Homo sapiens: one gene and its partners. The protein of the gene in region 1 purifies or fractionates together with the protein of each later gene. This does not show direct contact. Each region holds a gene or a part of one and is shown on either strand. Other genes may lie near its edges.

What was found. Proteins that work in one complex are often made in the same cells at the same time.
Region 2: the proteins of LRRC42 (region 1) and ZC3H14 fractionate together in Homo sapiens (co-fractionation; one large-scale study listed by BioGRID). This does not show direct contact.
Region 3: the proteins of LRRC42 (region 1) and SUGT1 purify together in Homo sapiens (affinity purification with mass spectrometry; 3 studies listed by BioGRID and IntAct, with this or other methods). This does not show direct contact.
Region 4: the proteins of LRRC42 (region 1) and AMBRA1 purify together in Homo sapiens (affinity purification with mass spectrometry, with the first as the bait; one large-scale study listed by BioGRID). This does not show direct contact.

The regions. Positions count from the first base shown.
Region 1 is NC_000001.11:53,949,350-53,952,849, reverse strand, and holds part of LRRC42 (leucine-rich repeat-containing protein 42), read right to left. Parts: intron 865-3,500; 5' UTR 851-864; coding exon 378-850; intron 1-377.
Region 2 is NC_000014.9:88,575,564-88,581,154, forward strand, and holds part of ZC3H14 (zinc finger CCCH domain-containing protein 14), read left to right. Parts: intron 1-276; coding exon 277-377; intron 378-2,421; coding exon 2,422-2,577; intron 2,578-5,591. UniProt on the Homo sapiens protein: RNA-binding protein involved in the biogenesis of circular RNAs (circRNAs), which are produced by back-splicing circularization of pre-mRNAs.
Region 3 is NC_000013.11:52,661,863-52,667,453, reverse strand, and holds part of SUGT1 (protein SGT1 homolog), read right to left. Parts: intron 4,806-5,591; coding exon 4,752-4,805; intron 4,359-4,751; coding exon 4,342-4,358; intron 3,420-4,341; coding exon 3,397-3,419; intron 1,818-3,396; coding exon 1,721-1,817; intron 643-1,720; coding exon 535-642; intron 1-534. UniProt on the Homo sapiens protein: May play a role in ubiquitination and subsequent proteasomal degradation of target proteins.
Region 4 is NC_000011.10:46,582,906-46,588,496, forward strand, and holds part of AMBRA1 (activating molecule in BECN1-regulated autophagy protein 1), read right to left. Parts: intron 4,540-5,591; exon of another isoform or gene 4,350-4,539; intron 1-4,349. UniProt on the Homo sapiens protein: Substrate-recognition component of a DCX (DDB1-CUL4-X-box) E3 ubiquitin-protein ligase complex involved in cell cycle control and autophagy.

The sequences.
Region 1 (3,500 bases):
TCTGAAAACCAAAAACAGGCCCAAAAACTCTGGGTACTAATCTCCCCATCTGTAAGAGCGTATCAAGAGATATTTGGCAGATCACATTTTGTCTTTTCTATTTTCTCTTTGAAAGCTGTTAGAATAATATTTTCTACTTAATGGAGGAGCTGTGACAACTAATCCTTGTAAAATGATTTCAGAATAAAGTTAAGTGTCATCTAAGAGGTGAGGAGAAGGAAGAGTGATTTTTTTCAATATGGTCTTTTACTTCATATTTGGAAGTTCTAAACTGAAGTGCTATTTGATGAGGGAAGCCCCTGAGCCCACTAAGCCCCAGAGCTTGACAGAATTAACACACCCAATAAAATACCGAATAATCTAATCAGAACACCCACCTGTTTCGCAAACACAGGGAGCAAAGCACCAAACTTCCATAGGCCTCAGTGAATTTCTGTAAAGCCCTCAGCCCTGCACCTGGCTCAGTGAATTTCTGTCTGGCTTCAGCAGCAGAGAACAGCTTTTCAGCAATCTGCTCAGGAAAGCCAATAAGGGAATCAATGTGATCCACATTGTCGGAGATGAAACCCAGGACAAGGCTGAAGAGGGATTTGGCGGAGTACCGAAGATTCCCCTCTCGGGTGTATGTGAAGATGAAATGATCAGTCTTCTCTTTCCGTGCAGTGTCGTCTTCCCTGTTCATGCAAAGCTCCACAGAAAAGCCTTTGGGGAACAGTCTGAAAGGCCTTGGCTTCTGCAGGCTACTCCTGACACCATCCAGAGCCAGATTGACCATGTGCAGCTGCCCATTTTCTCGCATGTAGATGGGCCCTGGGTCCAGGTGGTTTTCTGAGCTGAGGTAGTAAGACATTGCCTTGGTTGCAACTGTAAAAGCAAGGCACAGGGAAGCAAATCCAATTAAAATGCCATTTGTAACATGTAACTTCATCTTGCTGTGCCCAGGGCTTTATGAGCCTACCAGGCAGGCCTGGTGGCTGGTTTAGGAAAAGCAAAACTCACCAGTTGCCTGGGAACTTTGGCATTCAAGGTTGCCTCTATTGCCGCTACCTGGAATGCCCCTTCCTACTCTTCCCTTTTTCTTGTTTATCTGGCCATCTCCCACTCTTCTTTCAAAACCCAGGTCAAGGCCGGACGCATTAGCTCACGCCTGTAATCTCAGCACTTTGGGAGGCCGAGGCGGGCGGATCACCTGAGGTCAGGAGTTCGAGACCAGCCTGGCCAACATGGTGAAACCCCATCTCTACTAAAAATACAAAAATTAGCCGAGCGTGGTAGTGCGTGCCTGTAGTTCCAGCTACTCAGGAGGCTGAGGCAAGAGAATCGCTTGAACCCGGGAGACAGAGGTTACAGTGAGCCAAGATTGTTTCATTGCACTCCAGCCTGGGTGACAAGAGCGAGACTCCGTCTCAAAAAAAAACAAACAGAAACCCAGGTCAAAATCTCATCTTCAAAATTCATGCTAAGGAAGTTGTCACAGATGTCAGCAAAGATTCATTTATGTGTAAATTAATGGCAGCAAGTTTATATTAGCAAAACAATTGGAAAACGACCTAAATGTCTAACAATTGGGATGTTAATAAATACATTATGACTTACACGTACCATGGAATGTGATAAAGCCATTAAAATTATGAATTTTTAAAAAACATGTTTAGACACAGAAAAAAGACTAGAAATAAATAACTCCCTTGCTAGCTTGACACATTCCACACACTTCTTGGTTGCACTCGGTGCACTGTTGTATTTATTTGTTTCTGAGTCTGCCATCTGCTGCTTTGGGCTCCTTGAGAAAAGGAACCACGCTGAATTCATGCAGACTCTATAACACAGTGTCCTGGCATCTTATAGTCCCCGAGCAGATAGTGTGGAACCAACATTTACTCGTTTGCTAAACTTTACAAAGACCAAAAGCAACAGGATTTTTTTTATCTACAAATAAATACCTCCATTACAAGAGCTACATAAAAACTATTCTAGCCTTTGGAAACTTCGTATCTATTAAAGTTCTATTAGGGCAGTTTTAACATAAAAAAGTCAAACAGTTGGGCATTTCTGCAGTCATGTGGGTAATAATATATGCCCAAGAACTAACTGGAATACTTGTTTTCCTCCTGAGTAACCATGAGATTTCAAAATACATGAAAAATTGCTATGTTACATAAAATGAAGGTATTTGAGGATTATTTCTACAATTTAAAGGGAGAAGAGAGGTAGAATATCATACATGCCTGATAATATCCCTAAAATAATCTGATTGAGTTTTAGAGTGAACCAACTCAGCTTCTTCTGCATCAATGTGGGGCCACAATGTGGCCCTGAAGGCACTTATGAGTGTCAGCACACAATTAGGTCCGTGATCAAAAATGCTGAGTCTCTGGAGATGAAACAATGAACCTGTGTGTGGGAATCAGTACTATCCATGTTTCTCTCAAGGATAATTATGTGTATAAAAGCACATGAGAGAAGAGTACTCTGCCTAGCCCTAGAGCCTCACCCTTTCCTGCTCATCTCCTTATGTCCTACTCTTTGGCCCTGTCATACTACCCAGGTAAACTGGCCATGCTCTCATGTCCCACTGGCCATTGCTCGTTCTGTTCCCTTTGGCTGGAACATCCTTCTCTGCCTACCTGACCTAGCTAATTCCTACTCATCATTAACTTCGTCCCTCTTCTGGGAAACCTTCCCTAACCCCTGCACCAGTACGTGCCTGTCTGGTTTTCCCAGAGCACCCAGTCTCTCCTACATAGCACTTAGGACCATGTACTATGTCTGTTCACTTGTTAATGTACCCAGAGTGGTGAGCTTTTTGAAGGCAAGGTACTTATTTGATTCATCTATCTTTCTCAGGCTTGACATAGTGCCTAGTACTAAGTAAGCCCTCAAAAGATATTTGCTGAACTGTATGAAAGGAAGGGTAAGACCTCAAAGGACAAACTTGGTGCTCTCAGTTGTAGGGCCTGCTGATACTGTTGCTAGGAGCCAGCTCCTTTTCCAGGCAACAGCTGCAGGCTCCTCCCCCACTTGCCAGACCCTTCTGCAGGTGGCAGAGGCAAAGCAGACGATGGGAATATATTGCTACTGGTACTACAAGGGGTGGGAGACAACTAAACTAAAAAACAGGGGAAAAAAATCCTGTCACAGTGCCAGCTCTTATAACCCATACTTTTCTCTTGCCAGCATTTACAGCCCCTGCTGCTAAGGAGACACCTCATTTATTCTGAGCTGTTCCTCCAGTAGGGGTGAGCATCTGGACCCTCCAACCTTGCAGACCTTAATTTTGACTGAGGAATTACGGCAGATGTCCTTTGGTCTTTATCCCTGTCATTTAACATTCAGAGCTCCACTCTACTTGTAGATCAGAAAGCAGACGCTAGGTATGGCCCTAAAAAGGACTGACGTGATTTTAACAACAGAAAGACAAATTCTATGGAACATACCCTATTATAGTGGATGAATACACTGTGAACTCCCTGAGCAATGACACAGGGTCTGCCCATCTG
Region 2 (5,591 bases), on another chromosome or scaffold:
CAGGCACCTGTAGTCCTGGACTGGAGAGGTGGATGTGGAAGCATTGCTTGAGCCTAGAAGTTTAAGGCTGCAGTGACATCACACTCCATCCTGGGTGAGAGAGTAAGAGTCTGTCTAAAAAAAAAAATAAGGTTCCAGTGTAGTTGGCATTTTCTAAAAACTGCAGCTAGTCTGTTTAAAACCTAGAGAAGGTTGTGGTAAAGGCATAATAGATGGCTGGCCTGTGAGGAACTGAAATTTAAAGTTTAATAAAAATACCTTTCTTAACTCTTTTAGACCTTCTCTTCCACCTTCTAAACAAGCTAACAAGAATCTGATTTTGAAGGCTATATCTGAAGCTCAAGAATCCGTAACAAAAACAACTAACTACTCTACAGGTAATTTAAATGTATTATGTTTACACTTGGTAAGACATTTCTGTAATTCTTGAGTAAGGTGAAAATGATTGCTCCTTAAATTGTAAAATAAAGGTGCCTGTCAGATGTCAAGACCAAGATGAGGTTCCCATATAGAAAAATGGCTTTAAAAGGAAATTGACAAGTTTGAGAAACTTCGCCAACTGTTATTGGACTGTAGTTTTTCAAGCACCATATAATGCCTTTTATATCTTTCCAATGTGTGTAAAATATATAGTACGTAAATATTTTGAAGAGAATTTTGATGAAGTAGGACTTTCATATTAGTAGCATTAGATTCAACATTAGATATGAATTTACGATGTGTAAAGGGGAGTACAATTGGACAATGATAGGTATCTGAAGTTATAGAAATTTGTTAAACAGTAGTATATAAACAAGGTTGGTTTCTTCCCTTTTGGCGGAACTCATTAGTAGAATATAAGGCAGAGAATTGACTCATTTGTGATGTTCCTGCTCCAATTCTAGTGGAAGTACTGAATAATTTTATGAGAGAATATAAAAGTATTACGTTTTCAAAACAGGAGATGAATCAGCTGTAAGCTGGTCTTACGGAAAGCTGATTCTGAAATGCAAACAACTGATGGGTGTCATTTTGTGTTGTCAAATTCTGTACTCTCTGGCCGACCTGTTGTAGCCAATGTGTAAACTTGTGTTAAGAAGCTGATGGTAATGAGCTACTCTAAAAAGATTTAAGTTTTGCTGTGGATTTGGTGGGTGTACTTACAGCATTGCCCTGCTTATCCACTCTCTCGCTTTTTTTTGTGACCCCCCTTCCTAAAATGAGGTAAACTGTAGCCATCAGTTTTTTTATTTGTTTTCTTTTTTTGAGGCGAAGTCTTGCTCTGTTGCCCAGGCTGGAGTGCAGTGGTGTGATCTTGGCTTACTGCAATCTCTGCCTCCTGGGTCCAAGCGATTCTCCTGCCTCAGCCTCCCAAGTAGCTGGGATTACAGGCGCCCACTACCATGCCAGGCTAATTTTTTTGTATTTTTAGTAGAGGCGGGGTTCCACCATGTTGGCCAGGCTGGTCTCGTACTCCTGACCTCAGGTGATCACCTGCCTCCTCGGCCTCCCAAAATGCTGGGATTACAAGCGTGAGCCACCGCGCCTGGCACCATCAGTTTTTGATCCTGATACTTGTCTGTCCTCTTGGTTCTCCTCATCCCTAATTTAACCTTGAACACAAAATTCAACAGGTTTTGGCATATAGAATAAAGATTATCAGGCAAAGGCGCACTCTTGACCTAATGATATATCTACATTTCATTTCCTGATCTATCAGCAATATTAATTGTCTAGAATGATGAGAAGTTTAGAGAAGTTCCATGACTTTGAAATTTTCTTTCTTTACCTAGGTTATCTAAATTACAATTTGAAACTCATATAAGATCATGAAGCTAAGCTTAAATAAACCGCATTTTGTTGAAAATGAATACATATGTACTATATTGTATTCATGGTATGTGGTTGTATGGATATTGTTTACATATGTTTGGATAAATAGGTTCAGGTATCTATCTCAGTAACGTAAGAAAAAATGAATGGTATCTATGGATTGAACTCCTCATATATATGTTCTTTTCTTTTCTTTTTCTTTTTTTTTTGGAGACAGAGTCTCACTCTGTTGCCCAGGCTGGAGTGCACAGTGGTGCAATCTCGGCTCACTGCAACCTCCGCCTTCCGGGTTTAAGCAATTCTCCTGCCTCAGCCTCCTGAGTAGTTGGGATTACAGGTGTGTGCCACTATGCCCGGCTAGTGTTTGTATTTTTAGTAGAAACGAGGTTTTACCATGTTGGCCAGGCTGGTCTCAAACTCCTGACCTCAAGTGATCCACCCACCTTGCCTCCCAAAGTGCTGAGATTACAGGCATGAGCCACTGCGCCCAGCCTGAACTCATATGTCCTAAACCAAAGGAGGCATTTATATTTAATATGACATAGTCACTGTGGAGTTTTGACGTATTACTGCATTTGTATTTCTATCTTTTTTGCTTTTATGTGAAAGTTCCACAGAAACAGACACTTCCAGTTGCTCCCAGAACTCGAACTTCTCAAGAAGAATTGCTAGCAGAAGTGGTCCAGGGACAAAGTAGGACCCCCAGAATAAGTCCCCCCATTAAAGAAGAGGAAACAAAAGGAGATTCTGTAGAAAAAAATCAAGGTAATAACTTAAATGATGTTTCACTCTTTACTACAGTTTTTTCATGAGGCATTGAATATTTTCCAATGGATTTTTATGAAATATTACACTATGAAAAAAGTGATGATTAAGCCCAGAAATAGAATGAGAAGAATACCATGAGGAAGGTTCATACCAACACTTCAGAAAAAAATTTTTTTTTTAAAGAGGTAGGGTCTTGCTGTGTTGCCCAGGCAGTCCTCAAACTCCTGGGCTCAAGCAGTCCTCCTGCCTCAGCATCCTTAGTAGCTGGAGGTGTGTACAAGTGTGTGCCACTGCACCCAGCCCTTTCTAGAAATTTTTGAAAGTCTTTTTATTGTGGAAATTTTTAATATTCTCAAAAATGGAAAGGCTAGTACAGTGAACTCTCATGAACCCAGTCATTAAGCCTTAGTTATTATCAGAATTTTGCTGGTCTTTAGATAGCTCCTTCTTAAAGATATATTTATTTCTGCATTCTTTCTTTTTCTCTTTTTGTTGATCCTGCCCGTTTACCTGAACTTGAAATTTTAGTTACCTTTAAATCTCCCGTCTCTTAAGCATCCTGTCTCTGACCTCCCATATGTGTCCCAGCAACCCTAATTTATCCCCTCGTGCCTAACATACTTCAGTTTGCTTCCAGGTTTTTTTTTTTTTTTTTTTTTTTTGCTTTTTTCTCAGCTTTCTCCCCCAATTCCTATACAATCTTTTGACTTTGAAAGTGTGTCTCTCATCTTCTGACTCCTTTGTGAAAGTATCTCTCCCCTCCTCCTCATTACCCAGAACTAACGCTATTAGTTTGGACTTTTGGTGTCTGTTATCTGACCCCTGGGCCTGCACAGCCCTTCTCCATGACTCTTCAGACCTTTTGTCTCTTTTGTCGTCAAGAAGGATTCTTTTTTCTTCTGTTTCTTTTTCTACTAAGATTTGAATTTTAAGACCCCACCAAAAAAATCTATATGCTTATTATGTTATTTCTCACATACTTTTCAAGAACCTTGGAATATATTTTTTCATTTCTTCAAAACTGTCCTTTAAATTGTTCCAGGTTTCATGAAACCTTATGATTTCAGAATTGTCAATTCTGTATTTGTTTCCTCATTGTGTCTCTTTAAAAATTTTTGACTGTATTGTTCAGTTTGCCATGACAGCGTTATATACTATTCTGATAATTGATAGGCCTGAGGACAAGACCTGTTTGGTCCCCAAACAGCAGATAGGTACCAATTGGAAAATGTGAATGGGCCAAATTGAGAAGAGGAGCTGAAACTGAGGAGGGATTTTGCTCAGTGCAGTGGCAGATGAGGCTGATCTAAAAGGACTGCAGTGGTCTACTCCCTGTGGAGTCTGTAGTGTGTTGCACCAAGGTTTTCTTCAAACACAGGACTCTACGTGAGAGTCTTGGAGTGGAATCAGATGGAGCAGGGAAACAGACAATAGAGAAAAGGAAAGAATGTCAGATAAAAATAGGAGAGGAAAACAATAGGAAATCTCAAAGCAAGGTGCCATATTTTTTAACATCACAAAATCAACAGAAGAAGGTTGTTGATTCTGAAGTTAGAATAGCTATCCAAAGCAAACTTTCCCCTAAAATGAACAACAGAAAAGTATCAAGGTCAAGTCCTGTGCCGAATTAAAAGATAAAAGGGAATAAAAGACAAAACAGCATTGTTTCAATGAAAGCATGCTGAAAGGTATACCAAAAAGAAATACAATTTCAAAGTGAGCTAGAAGACATTATTTAAATAATACAAGACAAAGCCAAGAAAAACATAAAACAGAAGAACTTTGAGGCTGGGTGCAGTGGCTCATGCCTGTAATCCCAACACTTTGGGAGGCTGAGGCAGGAGGATCACTTGAGACTAGCCTGGGCAGCATAGCAAAACCCTGTCTCGACAAAAAATAAAAATATTAGCTGGGCAAGGTATACACCTGTAGTCCTGTCTCCTTGGGAGGCTGAAGTGGGAGGATTGCTGGAGCCCGGGAGGCTGAGGTGGGAGGATTGCTGGAGCCCAGGAGGCTGAGGTTGCAGTGAGCCACGATCATACCATTGCCCTCCAGGGAGGCTGAGGTGGGAGGATTGCTGGAGCCCAGGAGGCTGAGGTTGCAGTGAGCCATGATCATGCCATTGCCATCTAGTTTGGGCGATAGAGTGAGACTGTGTCTCAAAATAAATGAAGACTAAATTAGAAAGAACTCGAAAGAATTAGTGCGTCTTAATAAAATAAAACATGCGTGTAATCCCAGCAATTTGGGAGGCCAAGGCGGGAGGATCACTTGAGGCCAGGAGTTGAAGATCAGCCAGGGCAACATAGCAAAACCTTATGGCTACAGAAAACAGCAATTTAAAAATAAATAAAATTAAAACATCTTCAGAGAAATTGAAGATAAAAGACAAGAACATTTTAAAAGTCTAAAAGGGCTCATGAGAAAGTGGCAAATATTGATAATAGGCAATAGAAATACAGTGTTTTTATAGTAGGAATCTCCAAAGAAACAATATTCAGAGGAACAGAGCAAACATTAACTGTCTTTCAAGAAAACTTTCATGAAGTGAAAACATGTTTGAAACTGTTGTCTGAAAAATTGTACAGTATACCTGAGAATATTTACCCAGAACCATAACACTAAGATGTATTATATAATTAATGAAATTTTAAAAAGAAAAAAAATGATTTGGACATTCAGGCAAAAGGGGCACATGACTTAGAAGAAAAGGAAAGGTAGATTATCATCAAACTTTTCAACAGCATCACTTTTGTGCTGGAAGAAAATGGACTAGCATATTTAAGATACTCCAGAAAAGAAAATGTGAGCCAAGAATTTAATGTCCAGCAAAAGTGACCTTTAGAAGTGATCCAGCACCAACTGTTATCTATATGCAGAAATTCAGAGACTCATTCCCATGAACTTTTCTTAGGAAATCTAATGGAGGATGAGCTTCAGACAAGTAAAAGCCTGTTGTCCTGAATTTACATTGGAAATGTTTCGGAACTCACAGTGTATTTTATATATAA
Region 3 (5,591 bases), on another chromosome or scaffold:
AGAATCACTTGGATCCAGGAGGCAGAGGTTGCAGTGAGCCGAGATCACGCCACTGCACTCCAGCCTGGGCAACAAAGCAAGACTCCGTCTCAACAACAACAACAAAAAAAACAAAAGGCAGATTCATCTTTCTTGTAGTTTGTATTTTTAACTGCATGAGGTAGGGTGACAAAAGTATTTGTACATCAAAACAGACAAAACTGACAAGTTCAAGGGAAGAGACATTGTCAGTATCAAATCTTAAAGACAGGCTGATTATTGTATCTTTTTAAAAAAACCCCTTTATTGAAAAACATTATATCTGTCTTAGTAAATACACAAATGCCACACACTCTAAGTGGATTTTTATTCTTTACTGTACTAGAATTTGAGAGGTAAAATAACCCTTATACTCAAAAGTTATCATTCTTATTTTCTTGTCCCTGTTAAAGGGCTGAAAGAATCTACAAGCTTATAAACACATGGGTGATTAGTTCACCAGTATTTCTATAATTTTGAAAATATTACTAGTAACAAACTTTTCAATGGTCTTACCTTTGTTGAAAGTACTTTAAACGTGCTCTGTTCTGGTATTATAGGATGAAGAAGTTCCAGTTTCAAATTGTAATCCTCTCCAGAAGGAAGTTTAACCAAAGCAGACAACTAATGAACACAAAATTAGCATCACATTTTGTAAATGTATATAATGGAGGGTAAAAAACCTACACAAAATAATGACAAATCTTCAATAATGTTACAAATTATTTTAAACATTATATATGGAATTTTAGATTTAAGAACCTCAAAAGGTTCTCAAAGATTTAAGAACCTTTTTTTTCCATCTGGTATCCTTGACATGAATTCTTATAGACATCATTAAACAGCAGAAAAGAATAAGTTTCATAATATTTGTCATATATTTAATCACACCTATTTGATATTTAGATTTCAAGAAAACATACAAAAGCAAAATGATATATAACAAAAAGTGATCCATGTGCAAAACATACAGTTCTATCACTACCTCTTTTAAATAATCTATTATAAGGTTCTCTACTAAATGGTAAGAAATCAAGTTGTTAAAAGTCATACTCAAGAGGCTGGGCACGGTGGTGCATGCCTCTAATCCCAGCACTTTGGGAGGCTGAGATGGGTAGATCACTTGAGGTCAGGAATTCGACAACAGCCTGGCCAACATGGTGAAACCCCGTTTCTACAAAAATTAGCCAGGCACGGTGGCATGTGCCTGTAGTCCCAACTACTCAGGAGGCTGAGGCAGGAGAATTGTTTGAACCCAGGAGGAGGAGGCTGCAGTGAGCCGAAATTGCGCCACTGCACTCCAGCCTACGCAAGAGCGAGACTCTGTCTCAAAAAACAACAACAAAAAAAGTCATACTCATTTAACATGGCTAGTCAATTCTAAGACATGTGTGATCACAAAACTAACTAGATCTTTTTCATGAAGTACACCACACAAGTATAACCAAAGCACATTATCTTACTAATATAACCAAATTCTGCTTTAAATTTCAAATCTAAAGAAAAAAATGCACATCCAGCTATAATTTACCAACATACATATTCTTACCTCAAAGCAATGGCTTCAGATTTTATTCAACATTTTCCAAATCATCTCAGGAAGAAATAGCATTTATCTGATAAACCGTTATCGATTATTCTGCAATATACTAAATTTGCAAATAATAGTAATCAACATTGAAAAATGATTCAGTCTACTGACCTCTTTTTCTGAAAATTCCACATTTACATCATTCTTCTGAACATTCTTGATCATAAGTGTAATGACTACTTGAGATTCTGTTTGATACCAGTCATACCTATTAAAAAAAAAAAAGAAACTTAGGTAACTCTTCTAATTTTTTTAAAGCTATTGTCAAAACAAAAACTAGTCTGATAAACAACAAGAGCCCCACCTGGAGGAAGAAAACAGCAAAGCAACTACTGATTCACAGAAACAACTTTATATAACTAGTTTTTTATGCTCTGTACTAATGGAAAAAAATGGTAAGGTAAATGATGCTCACACCTTTCCAGTAGACTTAAATACTTGCATGATTTTCTGGGTTCTGACTCATCTCTAGCACTGTTGTGCTTAAACTAATATAAATATTAAAGATGTCATTTATTTTAAACAAGCTAATATTTATATGCCATCAATAGAGTTTTTATACTCTCATTTCATCCAAATACTACAGATAAACACTTAAATCCCTATTTTACAGATGATAAAACTTAAGCTCAGAAAGGTGAAGCAATAAGCCTGAGTCAACACTCCAAGCTCTCAAAACTGATGTTGGAAGCAGATAGACTTGAGCACACAAAACAGGGGCAAATGAACTAAAATTAAAATCATATGAAGTTTAACTGTGTCAGGCACAACATCATATACAACACTTTCCTTCAATTTCAAGATACATGGAAAGACTAATGGGTCTAGATTCTAATTATGTGCATCTTTTGTACTGAAAGCTCTAGAAACGTAGGAATCCTCACTTTCAAATTAGACTAGATTAAAAGCTCTCTGAGGGCAGAGCTGTTTATCCTGTCGCTATTATATCCCTAGGACCAAGCACAGTGTCCGGTACACGTATATTAAGTTAGATGTGGGATTATTTTATGCTCTGAACACCTTAATTATTATTTCATGGTTATGTGCCCTACCCCTGCTGCTGCCACCAGGGCAAGTCAAAGTTCCTTATCTACTAGGTACTTGGAGTTTCATCCTGTATCTCCCCACAACTACCATGAATAGATGGTTTTTAACTTTTCCAGGCCATTTTAGGTAATTATATCCAAAACCACCTTGATTAAAGAAATGAACTTTAAGAGTCTCGGTTTCCCTTTGCAATTCAGTAAGGATGCAAAGCTCCAGATCAACGGCTTGTGTTTCTGTTACGGTCCTAAGAATACAAGCTGTACACAGGCTAATGAATAATTAAAAGTCAAAGACTTGCTAGTTGCTTATTCATTATTATAATTGCTGCCCTCAGCAATATTAACTTTCAACGCATACAGAATGTTCCTATGAAAAATTTGCTCCAAATATAAAAGGCAGGTTAAGTTACAATTCTGTTAGATCTACTACTAACTTGTTTACCTGTGTAGTAACATAAACTTAACTGGAAGAGACTCTCCTTAACATATGGAAAGGTAACATAATATGAAACCAAGTGAAGCAACTTTAAAGATGAGAAATGATTTGAATTTAACTGAAGTACAAATATTAATCCTTAAACAGCCTTAAAATTGGCTTTACATAAAGCTATTACACAATTTTAGAAAACAAACAAAAACTTAAAAATCACATGGTAAGAATTTGCTTACTATTAAACTACAGGGTTTCTTCCTCTTTAGGCATATTTATCATGCATTGTTTTATGAAAAAGAAACACTCACTTGATTTTTGACTGATGAGTCCACTGGGATGCAGATTGATTTTGGTAAGTTGAAAGAGAAAGATTTTTACAAGTCAGTTTAGCAACTGTATTATTAAAATGCATGTATTATTAATTTACCCAACACTGCAGTTATTTTGATATAAAATAACTACATGAAAATTTTCTTCAAAGACATAGTAACTGTAATTGTTAAATACCACTAGTTTTCGGAAAAAAATTAGAATGCTCAGCATTTAAAAAATCTTAGATTGAATTTCATAAAAGATTTTTGCTCTAAAATAACAGAACTTTAAATAACAGAAAACTTCTAAAGGCATGATTAGAAAAGGTTGCTTATATAAAATGGCCAGTTCTAAGATTCAGCAACTTCCTAAACTAAAATAACATTGTTTTAAAAATCGTTTTAAAGAAACAGAGTAATTAGCCAGGCTTGGTGGTGTACATCTGTAGTCCCAGCTACTTGGAAGGCTGAGGTGGGAAGATTGCTTGAGCCCAGGAGTTTGAAGCTCAAGTGCACTATGATGGCACCACTGCACTCCAGCCTGCATGACAGAGCAAGACCCTGTCAATTTCCAATTTTCTTTAACTTTTGTCTTAGCCTATCATAAAAAGCCCTACAAGTGATTCAAACTGTTGAACCTAAATAAATGCAATAAGGTTTTAGTAACGAAAAGATAAATGATCATCATGACCATATTAAAACACACGAAATCAACTTTAACCACACACTAAATTCATTAAAATAGGCCAATAATTTTCATGACTGGAAACTTCTATATTTATCAAAAAATGATTTTATTTCAGTGCCTAGAGGAACCAGCACTTAAATGGAATTGCTTAATATTTAAATATCAGACAGCTCATCCTGAGTCTTGTCTCAAATATATTTGGTAGCTGAAATTTAAAATAATAAAAACATGAAGAATGAAAACTTTGGACTTACCACCTCAGATTCTGAGCCTATTAAAACATAAAAAGGAAACATTTTCAGGGAACAGTGCATTTTTAAGCAAAGTTATTTGTATGATTTCTATAGCACAAACATACTGATTAAGCAAGCAAATTCTCCGTACCTTTCAACTAAAGAAAAGTGGTTTCATTTTGCATCCTGAATTCATTTTAGACTCCTTAGTAATTTCTTACTGATATACCATACAAGCAAATCCACCCAAATCCCCCTTTCAACATAAGAAGCTATGCAAAAACCAGTGTATCTTTGGAAGTCCACATCTAAGGAAACGTATACTATTTAAAAGAAATTATAAAGATAAAAACAAATTTGTTTAAACCAAAAAAATTTCAGATGTTTACTTCTTTTTAAATTGAAACAAATACCAAGGGAGACCCACATACCATTCTGAGCTTCTTGACACCTTTTAATCCAGACACTGAAATTAGCATCTGCACCTAGAAAGAAAAAACTGACTATAACATCACTCATCTGCACAACCTATAAATCAACAAATACTTACTGAATACCTACTACATCCCAGGCAGTGTTCTAGGCACTGGGGAGTCGGCAGCGAACAAAACCTGTCTTAACAGACCTTATCACCAACTCTACTATAGTTATAAATATACCAATAGTTTAACATTTAGTTGTTAATCATGAAACATTTTGATTTTTTAAAAATTTTAACTACAGTCAACCTTAATTTCACAGATACAAATAATCTGCATTTCCCCCAATCCCGCTGCTCTTAGAGAAGCTTCCTCACACACAGAACAAAATCAGATGTAAATCAGACTCCCAATATGCCATCAGTTAGGGTGGGGAGGAGGCTTGGTAACTGGGAGCTGAGTTGAGGTTCAAAAGCCGTTCCCAGCCCCAGCTTGCTCTTCAATGCAGATACCTATTCAGTCCACTATTCTCTCAGTGGCTTTATCTGTTACCATGCCTTTCCTACCAACACCAAGCATCTTTAAATTCCGTGAAGTTTTGTCCTATCTCCAAGTTACATGGCAGTCGAGAGGCTATAGGTGATGTATTATATATTTATAGATAACAGTGTAAATGTATGCATAAACAAATTATTCACTTCTGGAGACACAGAACAATGATTACATTTAAACAGTCACAGTGCATAGTAAGATATGTTAAAAGTATTAAAAGTACTCTAAATAAGAGCTTATTAATTCAAGTTAACTGCAGACAAGATAAATTTGAAAATCTTAAATTAAAAATTTCTTAAC
Region 4 (5,591 bases), on another chromosome or scaffold:
AAAGGCCTCACAGGGATATTTCATAACTCAAAAAAAAAAAAGCCATAGTACATAATACACAGCATTATGGTATCCTCACTGCCTACTGAAGGAATACACATGCAACAAACATTTATCAAATGAATGACTGTCGCCAAGTCAATCCTAAGCCAAAAGAACAAAGCTGGAGGCATCACGCTACCTGACTTCAAACTATACTACAAGGCTACAGTAACCAAAACAGCATGGTACTGGTACCAAAACAGAGATATTGATCAATGGAACAGAACAGAGCCCTCAGAAATAATGCCGCATATCTACAACTATCTGATCTTCGACAAACCTGAGAAAAACAAGCAATGGGGAAAGGATTCCCTATTTAATAAATGGTGCTGGGAAAACTGGCTAGCCATATGTAGAAAGCTGAAACTGGATCCCTTCCTTACACCTTATACAAAAATTAATTCAAGATGGATTAAAGACTTAAACGTTAGACCTAAAACCATAAAAACGCTAGAAGAAAACCTAGGCATTACCATTCAGGACATAGGCATGGGAAAGGACTTCATGTCTAAAACACCAAAAGCAATGGCAACAAAAGCCAAAATTGACAAATGGGATCTAATTAAACTAAAGAGCTTCTGCACAGCAAAAGAAACTACCATCAGAGTGAACAGGCAACCTACAAAATGGGAGAAAATTTTCACAACCTACTCATCTGACAAAGGGCTAATATCCAGAATCTACAATGAACTCAAACAAATTTCCAAAAAAAAAAAAAAAAAAAAAAAAAAACAACAAAACAACCCCATCAAAAAGTGGGCGAAGGACATGAACAGACACTTCTGAAAAGAAGACATTTATGCAGCCAAAAAACACATGAAAAAATGCTCACCATCACTGGCCATCAGAGAAATGCAAATCAAAACCATAATGAGATACCATCTCACACCAGTTAGAATGGCAATCATTAAAAAGTCAGGAAACAACAGGTGCTGGAGAGGATGTGGAGAAATAGGAACACTTTTACACTGTTGGTGGGACTGTAAACTAGTTCAACCATTGTGGAAGTCAGTGTGGCGATTCCTCAGGGATCTAGAACTAGAAATACCATTTCACCCAGCCATCCTATTACTGGGTATATACCCAAAGGACTATAAATCATGCTGCTATAAAGACACATGCACATGTATGTTTATTGCGGCACTATTCACAATAGCAAAGACTTGGAACCAACCCAAATGTCCAACAATGATAGACTGGATTAAGAAAATGTGGCACATATACACCACGGAATACTATGCAGCCATAAAAAATGATGAGTTCATGTCCTTTGTAGGGACATGGATGAAATTGGAAATCATCATTCTCAGTAAACTATCACAAGGACAAAAAACCAAACACCGCATGTTCTCACTCATAGGTGGGAATTGAGCAATGAGAACACATGGACACAGGAAGGGGAACATCACACTCTGGGGACTGTTGTGGGGTGGGGGGAGGGGGGAGGGATAGCATTAGGAGATATACCTAATGCTAAATGACGAGTTAGTGGGTGCAGCACACCAGCATGGCACATGCATACATATGTAACTAACCTGCACATTGTGCACATGTACCCTAAAACTTGAAGTATAATAATAATAATAAAAAGAAAAAAAACAAAAAAAACAAATGAATGACTGAAAAATACACACTCTGCTATAATCACTAGAAAGAATTTTTTTTTTAATTTTTCTGAGACAGGGTCTTGCCATGATGATGCCCAGGATGGAGTGCAGTGGTGTGATCTTGGCTCACTGCAGCCTTGATCTCCTAGGCTCAGGCAGTCCTCCTGCCTCAGCCTCGCAAGCAGCTGGAAATACAGGCATGCACCACCATTTCCAGCTAATTTTAAAAAATTGTTGCCAGGCTCAGTGGCTAACACCTGTAATCCCAACACTTTGGGAGGCTGAGATGGGTGGATCACCTGAGGTCAGGAGTTCAAGACCAGACTGGCCAACATGGTGAAACCCTGTCTCTACTAAAAATACAAAAATTAGCTGGATGAGGTGGTGGGTGCTTATAAACCCAGCTACTCAGGAGGCTGAGGCAGGAGAAACGCTTGAACCTGGGAGGTAGAGGTTGCTGAGATCACACCACTCACTGCACTCCAGCCTGGGCGACTGTGCTCTCTGTGCTCTCTGAAACATGTGCTGTGTCCACTCAGGGTTAAATGGATTAAGGGCGGTGCAAGATGTGCTTTGTTAAACAGATGCTTGAAGGCAGCATGCTCGTTAAGAGTCATCACCACTCCCTAATCTCAAGTATCCAGGGACACAAACACTGCGGAAGGCCGCAGGGTCCTCTGCCTAGGAAAACCAGAGACCTTTGTTCACTTGTTTATCTGCTGAGCTTCCCTCCACTATTGCCCTATGACCCTGCCAAATCCCCCTCTGCGAGAAACACCCAAGAATGATCAATAAAAATAAATAAATAAATAAATAATTCCAAAAAAAAAACGCTGGGCATGGTGCCTCACACTTGTAATCCCAGCACTTTGGGAGGCCGAGGCAGGTGGACCACGAGGTCAGGAGATCGAGACCATCCTGGCTAACATGGTGAAAGCCCGACTCTACTAAAAATACAAAAATTAGCCAGGCGTGATGGCACACGCCTGTAGTCCCAGCTACTCAGGAGGCTGAGGCAGGAGAATCGCTTGAACCAAGGAGGCGGAGGTTGCAGTGAGCTGAGATCACGCCACTGCACTCCAGCCTGGGTGACAGAGCAAGACTCCATCTCAAAAAAAAAAAAAAAAAAAAAAAAAAAAAAATATATATATATATATATATATATATATTCCTAGCTTCCCAAATTGCTGGGTTTAAAGGTGTGGGCCACCACACCAGGCATAAAGACTTTTATAATTGGAAAATAACAATAATTTTTTTTTTCTTTTGAGACGGAGTTTCGCTCTTGTTGCCCAGGCTGGAGTGTGATGGCATGATCTCAGCTCACCACAACCTCCGCCTCCGGGGTTCAAGCTATTCTCCTGCCTCAGCCTCCCGAGTAGCTGAGATTACAGGCATGCACCACCACACCCAGCTAATTTGTATTTTTAGCAGAGACAGGGTTTCTCCACGTTGGTCAGGCTGGTCATGAACTCCCAACCTCAGGTGATCCACCCGCCTCAGCCTCCCAAAGTGCTGGGATTACAGGCATTAGCCACTGCACCCAGCCGAAAATAATAATGATTTTTAAAACTGGACGCACTGGCTCACACCTGTAATTCCAGCACTTAGGGAGATCGAGGTGGGCAGATCACTTGAAGCCAGAGTTCAACACAAGCCTGGCCAACATGGCAAAACTCTGACTCTACTAAAAGAAATACAAAAATTAGCCAGGTGTGGTGGCACACACCTGTAATCCCAGCTACTCGGGAGGCTGAGGCACAAGAATCGCTTGAACCCAGGAGGCAGAGGCTGCAATGAGCCAAGATTGTGCCACCGCACCAGAGCAAGACTGTCTCCAAAAAATAATAAAAAAATAATTTTTTAATTAAAAATAAAGATCCATCTTTTTACTTTTTTTTTCCTAGCTAGGATTTGAACCTATATCCTTTTACTTTATTTTGAAGGGTACTGTGGGGAAAGAGGGACAAATATGCTGTTTTAACTTCCTATTCCCTATTAAAGTTTTCCCAAAGCATCTAAACTTCAATCTAAGAATCATTATCATGTGTTCTTTTGGAAAACTTTATTTTGTTATAATAACATTGTTACTAACAACTGGCATATACAGCACCTAGTGCTGTTCTAAATGCTTTATACATATTAACTAATTTAGTTCTTACAACAACTGTATGGTATTTTACAGATGAGGAGAGGCACAGAGAGACTAAGTAACTTGCCCAAGTTGTATAGCTAGTAAGCAGGGGTGCTGGAATTTGAACCAGGCTGCTTGGCTCCAGGACTCAGTGCCACTATGCTGCTATTCAAAAGTCTGGGGAGAGATATTTTTCTGTCCTGTTTTCAGTGGTCGCCTAGAATAAAATACTCCAATTTTCTCTGCAAATCAAATGTGCTTATTAATCCTCTCCAACTCAGCAAAATTTCAGATGCTTCATTATACTATAGGTATATATACCTGTGATCTATTCTAGAGAGTAGAAATAAGTGATGAAATCATGAAATATAAAATTTGCTTCAGCTCATTTTAAAGAAACACAACTTCAGGTCAGGCACAGTGGCTCCCGCCTATAATCCCAACATGTTGGGAGGCCAAGGTGGGCAGATCACCTAAAGTCAGGAGTTCGAGATCTGCCTGGCCAACATGGTGAAACCCCATCTCTACTCAAAATACAAAAATTAGCCGGACGTGGTGGCACACACCTGTAGTCCCAGCTACTCGGGAGGCTGAGGCACGAGAATCGCTTGAACCCGGGAGGTGGAGGCTGCAGTGAGCCAAGATTGCACCACTGCACTCCAGCCTGGGCCACAGAGTGAGACCCTGCCACAAAAAAAAAGTAAAAAATTAAACTCATTAGTCAAGCATGCTAGATATTTATAAGTCCTAGTTATCCTTGACTATGTAAAACCCAGTATTATCATACATTAAATATCAGACACATATTACATGTAGCAATCAATCTTAAATGAAGACTGAAGACTTAGATGGCAGCAAGGAAACTTAAATTTACGCAATTATGATTCGTGATTCCAACTTTTCAAGGGGATTAAGGATGCTATGACTGAAGACTCTAATCCCTGTAAATACCCAGGGCTCGCCTCACTCCTTCTTCCCTCTGTCAGCCCTTGTTTATTTCCTTCAGAATACTTGTTTCAGTCTAAATTTCAATATTTATCAAATACCTATACTCCCCACTGGAATAAACTCCATAAGGAGACCATAAGAACACCTATGTCTACCTTTGTATCCCAACATCTAATGAGTCTTCAATAAATATTTGCTAGATGAACAAACATCTTCATAGGTAAGGGTTGAAACACACAGTCACAATCAAGAAATAGCTCCACAACGTCTGATGGGAATATTTCTGACCTCAGAAAAAAACACGGTACCAAAACAACACACAATGAAGAAAAAAATTTAGGTAGAGAAGTGAAGATTATTAACCCTAAGAGCAGAGGGAGAGACAAAAAATAAGTCAGAAAAGAAATAGAAGGAGGATGGGTGCTGTGGCTCATGCATGTAATCACAGAACTTTGACAGGCCAAGTTGGGCAGATGACTTGAGGTCAGGGGTTCAAGACCAGCCTGGCCAACATGGTGAAACCTGGTCTCTACTAAAAATACAAAATTAGCTGGGCCTGGTGGCACGTGTCTGTAATCCCAGCTACTCAGGAAGCTGAGGAGGGGGAATCACTTGAACCTGGGAGGCGCAGGTTGCAATGAGCCAAGATAGCGCAGCTGCACTCCAGCCTGGATGACAGAGCAAGACTCCATCTCAAAAAAAATAAACAGAAAGTAGCAAGTTGCCCAAGAACTTAAATAACATCTGTTCATTGTTGTTGTAAAATAGCATGGAAGTTAACAATTGAAGAGTACTTTATCCTTTTAAAGCATTTTCACATACTTTTTCTCAATGTAATCAACTTAAGTATTATGATGGGC